Linked DNA regions of Homo sapiens: region 1 is linked to region 2. The links come from fine-mapping of genetic effects on gene expression. A gene starts in region 2. The other region holds a variant in brackets. All regions are shown on one strand. Distances are between the middles of the regions. Region 1 has its middle 33 kb from the start of WLS. Region 2 holds the start of WLS (Wnt ligand secretion mediator).

What was found.
Region 1: its variant is fine-mapped to the expression of WLS in whole blood (TOPMed, PIP 0.99).

What each region holds. Positions count from the first base shown.
Region 1 is chr1:68,262,603-68,267,983 of GRCh38, forward strand. No RefSeq gene overlaps it. Among named protein-coding and RNA genes, the nearest start is that of WLS, 33 kb to the left of the region's middle. The variant C/G (reference allele first, on the strand shown) is at 2,942.
Region 2 is chr1:68,229,940-68,235,320 of GRCh38, forward strand. WLS (Wnt ligand secretion mediator) reads right to left here and starts at 2,584. Exons shown (of 12, transcript NM_024911.7): 1 at 2,255-2,584. The coding sequence starts at 2,360.

The sequences.
Region 1 (5,381 bases), 33 kb after region 2:
CTCGGGAGGCTGAGGCAGGAGAACAGTGTGAACCCGGGAGGCGGAGCTTGTAGTGAGCCAAGATCGCGCCACTGCACTCCAGCCTGGGCGACACAGCGAGACTCTGTCTCAAAAAAAAAAAAAAAAAAAAAAGGCACAACGAAATACTTCAGAATCTATAAAAGCTCTATATCTATACAATGAAAAAAGTTAGTATTCCTGCCTTTTGACATTTCTTCGACAATAACTCTTACTGATATCTTCTACCATTATTTTCCTTTTTATAAATTTATATGAAAAGCAGTTGGAAAGACATCACAGAGTGGTAGAAATAACCTATCATTTGCAGTCAACTGACATGGATTTGTGTCCTGGTTCCCATGATTACTTGCTATGTGACCTTAGGTAAATCGTTTAACCTTTGTGAGCCTTACTTTCCTATGATATAAGGTTACTAAATAATGCCAACAGGTTCCCCCTAGTCATTCATTGATAGATTAAGTTATTATTTCTATTATATGGCATGATTGCTAGTAATCTCCTAGTATCCATTCTTTTTTTGTCCTTTACTATGATATGCTAGACCCTACTAGAACTCCTGGCTACCAAAGATATTCCTCAGCCTTTCTTGTAGTTAATGGGATATGAGCAGAAGAAGCAAAAAGCATGTCTCGCCCTTGAACCCTTCCCCCTTTCTGCTTGGTGAAATGTTGACTGAGGAGACGGGTTGGGAATCTACCTTCAACCATGTAGTAGAGGACAACACCACCCAGAATGCAGACATAGAAGGAATCACAGAGAAATGGTGCCACTAAAAAGTATAAAAGAGTAGACATCGTTGAACTGGAGAATTAAAGAAAGACTAATTAAAACATCATAGTTGAGGAAAATAGAATAAGCCTGGTTTCCCCTTCAATTCCAAATTCCAACTTTTAATGGGCTTTTAACTTTATGAAGCTGTCTTACTATCCCATATTGTTAGACTGTCATATGAGAGAGATATACACTTCTATCTTATTTATACTACTTTTCATAAGTTGGGCTTTTGTTTAGCAGTAAAAGCTGGAATTTGGAATTGCAAGGGGAAACCAGGCTTATTCTCTTTTCCTCAACTATGATGTTTTAATTAGTCTTTCTTTAATTCTCCAGTTCAACGATGTCCACTCTTTTATACTTTTTAGTGGCACTATTTCTCTGTGATTTAAACAAACAAGGGATGTCCTAGTAGGAAACCATAATACATTCTCAGCATATTCTAATTATGACTGATAGTCAGCTTGTTCCTATGGTTGTTTGTAAGTATACAATGTCCCGAGTTTGTTTTACTAGAGAAATGTCCCTGAGTTCTATGTCCATGCTACAGTCATATATCACTAGCAGCTTTAATGACATGCTATAGTCAGAGTAAATGATCCTCAAGTATTTTTTTTCTATAAAAAGTTAACAACATCTTCAGTGAGTCAACCCATCCTTGTTCCCTGGCCATTACTGATTGAAGAAGACAAACTTGATGTGAGGGAGGCCAAGTACCTTGAGAAGACTTGGCAAAATCTCTGCCCAACAGAGGCACACAGAGAGGAGGAGACAGTGGAGGCTTTATCCTGAATTATGTTGAATTTTAACCCTGTCCTACATCCTATTCTTTAAAGTACAGGATTAGGGTCAAAAATAACTGACACCACGGCTGGGCACGGTAGCTCACGCCTGTAATCCCAGCACTATGGGAGGCCAAGGCGGGCAGATCACCTGAGGTCAGGAGTTTGGGACTGGCCTGATCAATATGGTGAAACCTCGTCTCTACTAAAAATACAAAAATTAGCCAGGCATGGTGGCAGGTGCCTGTAGTCCCAGCTACTTGGGAGGCTGAGACAGGAGAATTGCTTGAACCCAAGAGGTGGAGGTTGCAGTGAGCCAATATAGTGCCACTGCACTCCAGCCTGGGTGATGGAGCGAGACTCTGTCTCAAAACAAACAAACAAGCCAAAAAACTGATGGTACAGCTCTCCAGTCATAACCTCACCTTATTTTCATTACCTAAATTATTTGTAACAAACTCTCATTACCAAGGTAATCTGCTATTGACTATTCATTTGCAATCTTTTTGGGGTATTTTTTGGTTTTTTTTTTTTTTGAGACAGGGTCTTGCTTAGTTGCCCAGACTAGAGCATAGTGGTGTGATCACAGCTCACTGTAGCATCGACCTCCTGGGCTCCAGTGATCCTCCCACCTCAGCTTCTCGAGTGGCTGGGACCACAGGCATGCACCACCATATTCGACTAATTTTTTTACTTTTTGGAATGACAAGGTCTCACTGTGTTGCCCAGGCTGGTCTTGAACTCCTAGGCTCAAGCAATCCTCCCACCTCACTTAAGGAATGTTAAGAAATGAAAAGTGCTGAGATTACAGGGGTGGGCCTCCACACGTGGCTATTCATTGCAATCTTAAAGAAACTTACTCACAAATACATTAATGTCTGCTACTTCTACCTAATAATTGAGGAAAAAAGATGAAAAGAAAATACGATAGGTACAACCTAGACTTGGAGTTATACATCCTGGGCTACCCAGGACAGTCATAGGTTACACAACTGGATTTATATGCTGGATTTATACCCAGCATAATTGTTAATAATGCCCCTTTCAGGCTCAGAAGTGTTTCAGACGGTCACTCTAATGAGATTAGATGCAAAAGAGATCTTGTGTAAGGCAGAGGATACTTACATGTTGAATTGATGTGGGTATGACAGAAAAAGTTATGAAATTTTCTTTGCTGGAAGCTTCTAAAATTTATTATGCAACTGAATATTCTAAGAAAATGTGTCATATCCAAGGGGCTGAACAATAAATTTTGTTTCTGATGCTGTTAGAAGCAGGTAAGTTTTGAAATGTGTTCTGGGTAAACTGTTGGCCATAGGGATATATAAATTCATGTTATATATTAACACATCCAGAAGCTCCTAATT[C/G]ATGCTTGGATTATTTTAGTATTTGACCTAATGTCTTTAATGAAATCTTAGCTATGTTCTTGATTTTTGTTTATATTTGTTTTTTCTAACCATAAGCACATGTCAGAGTCCACTCAGTGTCACTAAAATAGTCTCAGAGTCATTTGCTGCTACCTCTCCTATCATCAGCAACTCTTACGAACAAGTCACAGAGGATGTGCAAGCAAAGCATGCCAGAGATTGAAAATTAAAAATGGAATGCTATCAATGATCCTTGACTTCTGATCCAATAGCTTTTTGCCAAAGCTGTTTTCATAGGTTTCAGTGCAATATCTGGCCCATACATCTACTTCTTGGTGTTACATTTCATTTCTATTGCTTAATTATATAAGCTCCTGGCTCCTTATTTTTCATGGTGCGAACTGCTGACTGTTTCCCAATATATCAGTTTTCTCCTTGTGTATGGTAATGTCAATTCCCTTCTAGATGGTAATATGGCTGCCCAGCTAGAGACTAAAGACATTCGTCAGTCCCTTTGAAGCCAAGTGTGGCCATCTTACTAAGTCCTTGACTATTGAATATGAAAAGAAGATGTGTATATTATTTCTACATAGTTTACTTAGTGACAACTTCTTGCCCTAGACTTGTTTTCTAACCCCTTACTGAAAACTGGAGAACAGATATGCCAGTCACCCAGCCTTGACCATTAAGATGATGACAATGCCCTGACACCTTGCTACTTAGAGTGTGCGCCTTGGACTAACAGCATTAACATCACCCGGAAGCTTTTTAGAAATACAGAATCTCAGGCCCCATTCCAGGCCTGCTAATGAGAATCTGCATTTTAGCATGATCCACCAGTGATTTAAATTCATGTTAACATTTGAGAAATACTGCCTTAATAGGGTATAATGGAACAACAAAATGGAAGGAATCTAGGTCTATTAATTATTTTGTTGAGCAGAGCTATCTACTAGCCTGGTCTGCCCACCTATAGACTGTTATGGGAAAGCACAGTGAAATTCTATCTTACTAAATCATTGAATTTTGGGGTCTCTTTTTGATCTCTATTCTAATTTATATAGTTTTTATTCCTTGTAATAAGAAACCTACTTTTTAAAGCTCTGCTAGAGTCTTGTGGAGAAAGAGATGAGAAAGAATGTTATTTCCTTTTGGACTATTCTGGAGTAGTCCCTCCACCCTTTAGAGAAGTACCTAAATTTAACTCAGGCTATGTTGATTTATCTAGGACTGGGTGAGTGGGGAGTGCTCTTACCCCATCCTCCTGAGCATTACTCTCCATATTCCAACCATCATTTTTGGTCTCCTTGAGGATGCTGACTTAAGAAACTCAGTATAAATATTAAATGAACTGAATACAAAATGTCTCCGGAGATGGTTTCATCATTTTTTTTTTCCAGAAGACCCAAATTTGAGCTGGCAGCATTAATCAAATAGACCACATTTATTATAAAGTACATTAGAGCATGCACGCTCTCCTTTTAATGTATAGACTCTCACCCACTATTTAACAACCATTTTCTCCTTACTTCTTCCTTTCCATTCCTAGTTTGGTAAATGTGTCCTCTGGACTTGCAATTCCCATACTTCAAACCAACAAACATTTACTAAATGCCTCTTAAGGCATTGTGCTAGGCATTAGGTTAGACGCTAGATATACAGTAGTGATTAAGAAAAAACAGATCTGAGGCCAGTCATGGTGGTTCACTCCTGTAATCCCAGCACTTTGGGAGGCTGAGGCAGGCGGATCACCTGAGGTCAGGAGTTCGAGACCAGCCTGGCCAACATAGTGAAACCCATCTCTACTAAAAATACAAAAATTAGCTGGGTGTGGTGACGCATGCCTGTAATCCCAGCTACTTGGGGGGCTGAAGCACAGGAATTGCTTGAACCCGGGAGGTGGAGGTTGCAGTGAACCGAGACTGCACCACTGCACTCCAGCCTGGGCATGATCTTGGCTCACTGCAACACTGCAACCAAAAAAAAAAAAAAAAAACGAGAAAAAACAGATCTGGCCTCTGGCCTCACGCATAGCTTACAGTCTAACTGGGCAGAAGATCAATGAACAAGTAATTACACAGCTGAAGAATTTTAAGAAATGAAAAGTACTTAAAAATTTTGTAGTAACATTTATTGACTGAATAAATGGAGAAAAATAAATTGAGAATTAAGCAGCTTTCCTCCAAGCCTCCAGGGCAACAAGGAACACTCCCTTATTTTCCCTTTCCTGCCTTCCTTCCTCATTGCTTTGGGTTCACATTGGTTCTTGTGCCTGTGAAAGAGGAGTTAGATAATTAATCAGCTAAAAATAAGGATTCACAGTTAATGCACTTGGAAAGGGATCGAAAAGGAACTTGGCAAGATAAAAATACAGTCTTGCACTGCATAATGTCATTTTGGTCAATGACAGACTGCCTATAGGATGGTGGTTCCATAAAAT
Region 2 (5,381 bases):
CCGCGGACTTTTTGAGGTTGTCGTCATTAACCAAATTCTTCGGGAAAAACAATCTTTGGCACCACTTACTCCAGACAAACCCTGTTTGGAACAGACAAGTGTTCTGACCCTATAGTCGCTCCAATGTCCACCAGCCACTCACGAGTGCCCTTAGGGCTTCTCCTTGGTGGTAGCATCCCAGAAATCCTACTAGTTTCAGAAGTGCCCTAGGAAGCCTACTTCTTGGATAATGGGCTCTGTCTGCAAAGCTAGGAGATCAGCCTAGAAAAAGAAACACACCAACAAACACCAGGAAACTATGTGTAATGGTTTGCTGCTTGTGCAAAAACCTCAAAGAGGATGAAGGTCAGACAGGGATAATAGGCCAATTTAATTCTGAAAGCACAAGGTGCAAGAAATTTTAATTATGGTCTGCCACTGAAATCACACAAGATCCAATGGCATCTAACTGCAACTGCTCATCAAGGGAGACAAGAGGTGTAATTGTAACCGCTGCATAATCACTGTGAGGGCACAGGGAAGGCTGCCTTCAGCTCCCAGCAGAGAAGGTATTAAGAGCCTCGAAAAATCCAATACGGGGAAACGAGATTGCATGTAGCCAAACAGAAGCTCCTAACACAAAAGCCAACCCGTGTGTGTGTGTGCGCGCGTGTGTGTGTGTGTGTGTGTGTGTGTTGAGGGTGAGGGTTCCAGAAAGAAAATGTGAAGCTGTTTGGCCCACACTGGGGATAAGAGATTGTTTGAAAACTCTGAACCCTTTTCTGTTTTGTGGATAAATGCACACAGAGAAAAGAGCACTGTCTCCTTTAGGTATTTCTCTCCTTGATGAAGCTTCACCCACTCTCCTTTGTTTAAGACAATTGGCTTGGATGTTACCGTGATTTACAGTACCAAACTCCCTTTAATTTGTTCCCATCAAACCCAAGTCTGGAGACAAAACGCCAAGCACACGACTGGAGGTGCCCAAGCCTGTGCAGCTCTGGCAGCGACGCCGCCGGCGCCCCCGGGCGTTTTCCCCGCACCCCACATCGCGTGGGCGCCCGTAAAGGCACGCGCGGAGAAAGCCCCTCCGTGGACTCCCCACTCCGCAAAGTTTAACAAAGCCGTGAAGTAAGGAAACCGAACCTCCCGTCCGCGCCCGCTGCAAAGTTGGCATTGAAGTTTGTGCCGGGATGTCCCAAATCTTGAGGGGGCGGGGGGCGCGAGTGTGCAGAGAGGCGGGAGGATGGATGCAGATGGGGAGACAGTGAGGGGAAGGGAGTTTTTCCGAGTGGACGGTCCGTGAGGCGGTTTTCTTCACCCGGAAGCCTGTTTGACTCAGAGAGGTCCGGGAGGTGCACGCCAGGGGAGGTCTCCCGGGGCGGGCGCTGTCGCCGAGGAGGCCGGCGAGCTGTCACCTGCGGGGGGCTGTGGTGGGAGCTGAGGGCGCTCTCCTAAGCGCCAAAAGAGGACGGGGACATTCACAGTCACCGGCTCTCGGGGCTCTAAGTAGTGGGGGAAGGGATATTCACGAGTGGGCAGGAGGCCAAAAGCAACACCTTTCGGATACGCTTTTCCCCTCCGACCTCTCCAACTTCCCGCGGCGCTGGTCAAGGACTCCCTCCCACCCCACCCCATCCCACCCAACCTCCCGGCCGACAATTCGGACCTGTCCACGGCAGAGCGTGGGGTGGAGTGCGGCGGGAAAGCAGAGGGCGCGAAGGTCGGGACCCCAAATTGCAAACCCTCAGCCCCTAGCAAAGACGACCAAATGCATTTACAACCGTGCAAGTATCTCAGCCTTGTAACAGAGCTCCGGGTTTGCGCCGGGCACAGTTCCCCGACTCTTCTGTTGTTCCTAATAAAGTCGATTACGTTGCCCTCCCGGAGCTGATTGGAAGGGAACCGAGAGGAAAAGGGGGGGAACGCGGGAAAAAGCGGGGGGGGGGGGGGGCGAGCAATCAACTTTGTAACCCAGCGCTTCCTCGCGCGATCCGTCGCCATGCTTAAGATTCCCACCCCCGCCGCCCCCCTCTTGCCTTTCAAGTGGATACTGAAACTAGGCCAAAACTTTTTCCCCTCCTTTTCTCTTAGCCACTAGACTGGATTGTGCCCCACGGAGCCCCATGGAGCTCTGCTTTCTTAAGCACAATAGCCGGACTAATTAGATCATAGAAGCAAGGCAGTGATACTGTAACAAGTAGCCCAAGAGGCAAAGAGGGAAGGGGCCCGAAAAGACAGAAAGGGGGAAAAGTTTGCAGCTCTCCGCACTTACCAATCAAGCCTCCCACCAGAAAGGCGATGATTTGGAACACGAGCAGAATCCCACCAACAATGCACAGCTTCTTGGTGCTCATGTTTTCTATAATTGCCCCAGCCATTTTTGCGCCCCCCCTTTTTCTTTTCTCCTTGAAATAAATGTTTTAGGGTGAGCTTTTTGCTCCCTCCTCTCACACACTCCCTCCTTCCTCGCCTCCTTTCTGGGCGCTGCAAAACTTCAGAGGTGCTGGAGCGCGGCGAGGATGGGACCGGGACGGAAGGCGCCCGCACGGATTCCCCCGGCGCAGCCGGCTCGGGTTCCCCCAATGCCCGGAGCTGTGATTGTGGCCGCTCCGCCGCCTGTGGACGCTTAAAGGAGCAGGGAAGCGGATCACATGACGCCGCCTCCCTCCCTTTCTTCCTCCCTCCCTCTCGCGCTTCCTCCCTCCCTCCCTCCCTCTCTTCCTCTACCCCTTGCCCACCAGTTCGGGGCTCAGAGCTCTGGCGGGTGCTGGCGCCTGGCTCCCGAGTCTGGCCTGCAACCTGTCTCTCCAAGGTCTGATGCCATTTAGGGGTTGCTGTTGATGTTAAGCGGGTTCCCCCTGCCCAGCTTCTCACAGGTTTCCTTTTCTGGTTTCCGAAGTGCGAGATTTAAATCACCGGTGGACCGCCTTGCAGACCTTTAACTTACGCGTTGACTTTAGGAAATGGTCCCCACCCCACCCCCAACTGCTAGAACTCTCTTTAGGAAAGAGGAGGAGAATTTTTTTTAAAAGGACCCAATAGATGCCTAAGTCAAAACACAGAGATGCGGAATAAAGTCTCAGCTCGACTTCTTTCTACCAGATTCCCAGCCTCGGTTATTGGGCACATACCCAGCTAAATTCCCCACGGCGCCCCTTGAGGAAACTTGCTCTCCAGCCAAATCAGACCACTGTTCGTTACTCCAGCACATGTGCTTCCACAGCCTTAACCCTGGTTATTGCCTTAAAGAGAACATGTTCTACTCCATCAATGTTAAACCTGATCCAAAACCAACTAGTGTTAAAAAATCTTTCTAATTTTCCACACCACCTCCATGCAGTATCTCTGGGAACTGAGCCCCTACAATCCTGTATTTACATTTTTACCTCCTATTGTAAGGATTTGTGTACACGTTTGTCTCCACCACTGAGCTGTAAACTCCTGGGGAATAGGGACCAAGTTTTTTTTGTTCTTTGTACCCCCCATGGTGCCTAACAAAATGCTAGCTCTAGTAGGTGCCCCATAATCTTTTGTGGAATGAATAAGTGAATGTGAAAGCAAGCCCACAGTTTGTATTTCAAAGGTCTAAAGAGATCTTAGTTGGTTTAGAGGGTACCTATATTAAGTTACAATGTTTGTTGTCTCTTTGTGAGAAATCATATATTTATATTTATACTTAACTTCCATAAAAAGAGGGGCGGGGCTCCCGATAGAGATTTCCTGCTCTATCAAGCCTAAATTTCTGGGCCTGGTTTTTCCATGTTTCATAAACTGGCCGCTTGGCCAGTACAACTCACCTTACTCAATAGACCCTTGGTTTGGTAAATACCCCACCCTGCTCCCCAAACGTGCAGTTTCTACCACCACCACCCACACATCTTGTTTCTTGTCCCTCCCATCCTTACACACCCTCTTCATGCCAAGAGACTATTTTTCCCAGTCCTCTCTCCTCCTCTACTCTGTTCCTGAATTTTCATTGCCCTTATAAAAGATGTCATGCAGGTTACACTTAATAGAAGCATTCATTTCTAATCTCCAAATAGAACAGAGACTTGTCAAGGACAAGCACCAAACTTTATGCATACAAAACTCCATCTCTTCAACATCTAATAGTTCTTAACAGTTCTGAGGATATACACATCATTATGTGTCACATAAGGATGTTTCAGTCAACAACAGACCGTGTGTGTGACAGTAGTCCTATAAGGTTATAATACCATATTCTTACAACACCTTTTCTATAGATATGTTTAGATACACAGAGTGCTTACTATTGCATTACAGTTGTCTACAGTGTTCAGTACAGTAACATGCCAGACAGGTTTGTAGTCTAGGAGCAATCAGCTACACGGTGTAGCCTAGGTCTGTAGTAGGCTATGCTACCTAGGTTTATGTAAGTGCCCTCTATGACATTTGCACAATGACAAATCACCTAACAACACATTCTCAGAAGGTATTCCCATCATTAAGCAATGCATGACTGTGGTTGCTGTTTATCTATTCTCTCATTCAACTCTTTATCCAAGTCACTTATTGAGCCTTTAACATGTTCCAGGCTTTCTTTCTTAAGCACTCAAGGATACCAAGATGTCAAAGTACTTGCACCTGCCCCAGAGGAACCCCCCCCCAGTCCAAATGTTATTCACTGAATAGTAATTAATTACCTCTACTTTGGCAAACACCAGGTACTATCAGAAAGGATGAAGTAGACAGAATTGTTGTCCTTCCAATGTCCTTCAGTTCAAAGTACTCAGATACCTTGGGGTATCATGTTCTGAGCCCAGCACTCCTAAGGGCCCATTTATCTTTCCTAAAAGTCATTTGTTTTCTCATAAATACACTTCTTCTCCTATTAAGATAGAATATAAGCTCCAAATTCTATTAACAACTGCCTCCTTGAGTGGTTATGAATGCCCACATACATTTGATATATGTGAACAAAAATTTGTCTTTTGCCTTGCTAATCTGTCTTTTGTCAGTTTAGTCCACAGACCCCCAAGCACTATGCATAAGAGGGTAGAGAAAAAATGGTGGGTTTTTTGTTTATTTATTTGTTTGTTTGTTTTTGAGACAGAGTCTCATTCTGTCGCCCAGTCTGCAGTGCAGTGACACGATCTTGGCTCACTGCAACCTCTGCCTCCTGAGCTCAAGCAATTCTCCTGCCTCAGCCTCCTGTGTAGCTGGGATTACAGGTGCCCACCACCACATCTAGCTAATTTTTGTATTTTTAGTAGAAATGGGGTTTCGCCATGTTGGCTAGGCTGGTCTTGAACTCCTGACCTCAGGTGATCCACCCACCTCTGCTCCCAAAGTGCTGGGATTACAGGTGTGAGCTACCACGCCTGGCCCCCGTCCACTTCAAATATAAACTGGATCCATAAAAAATGTCTGGAGTGGTA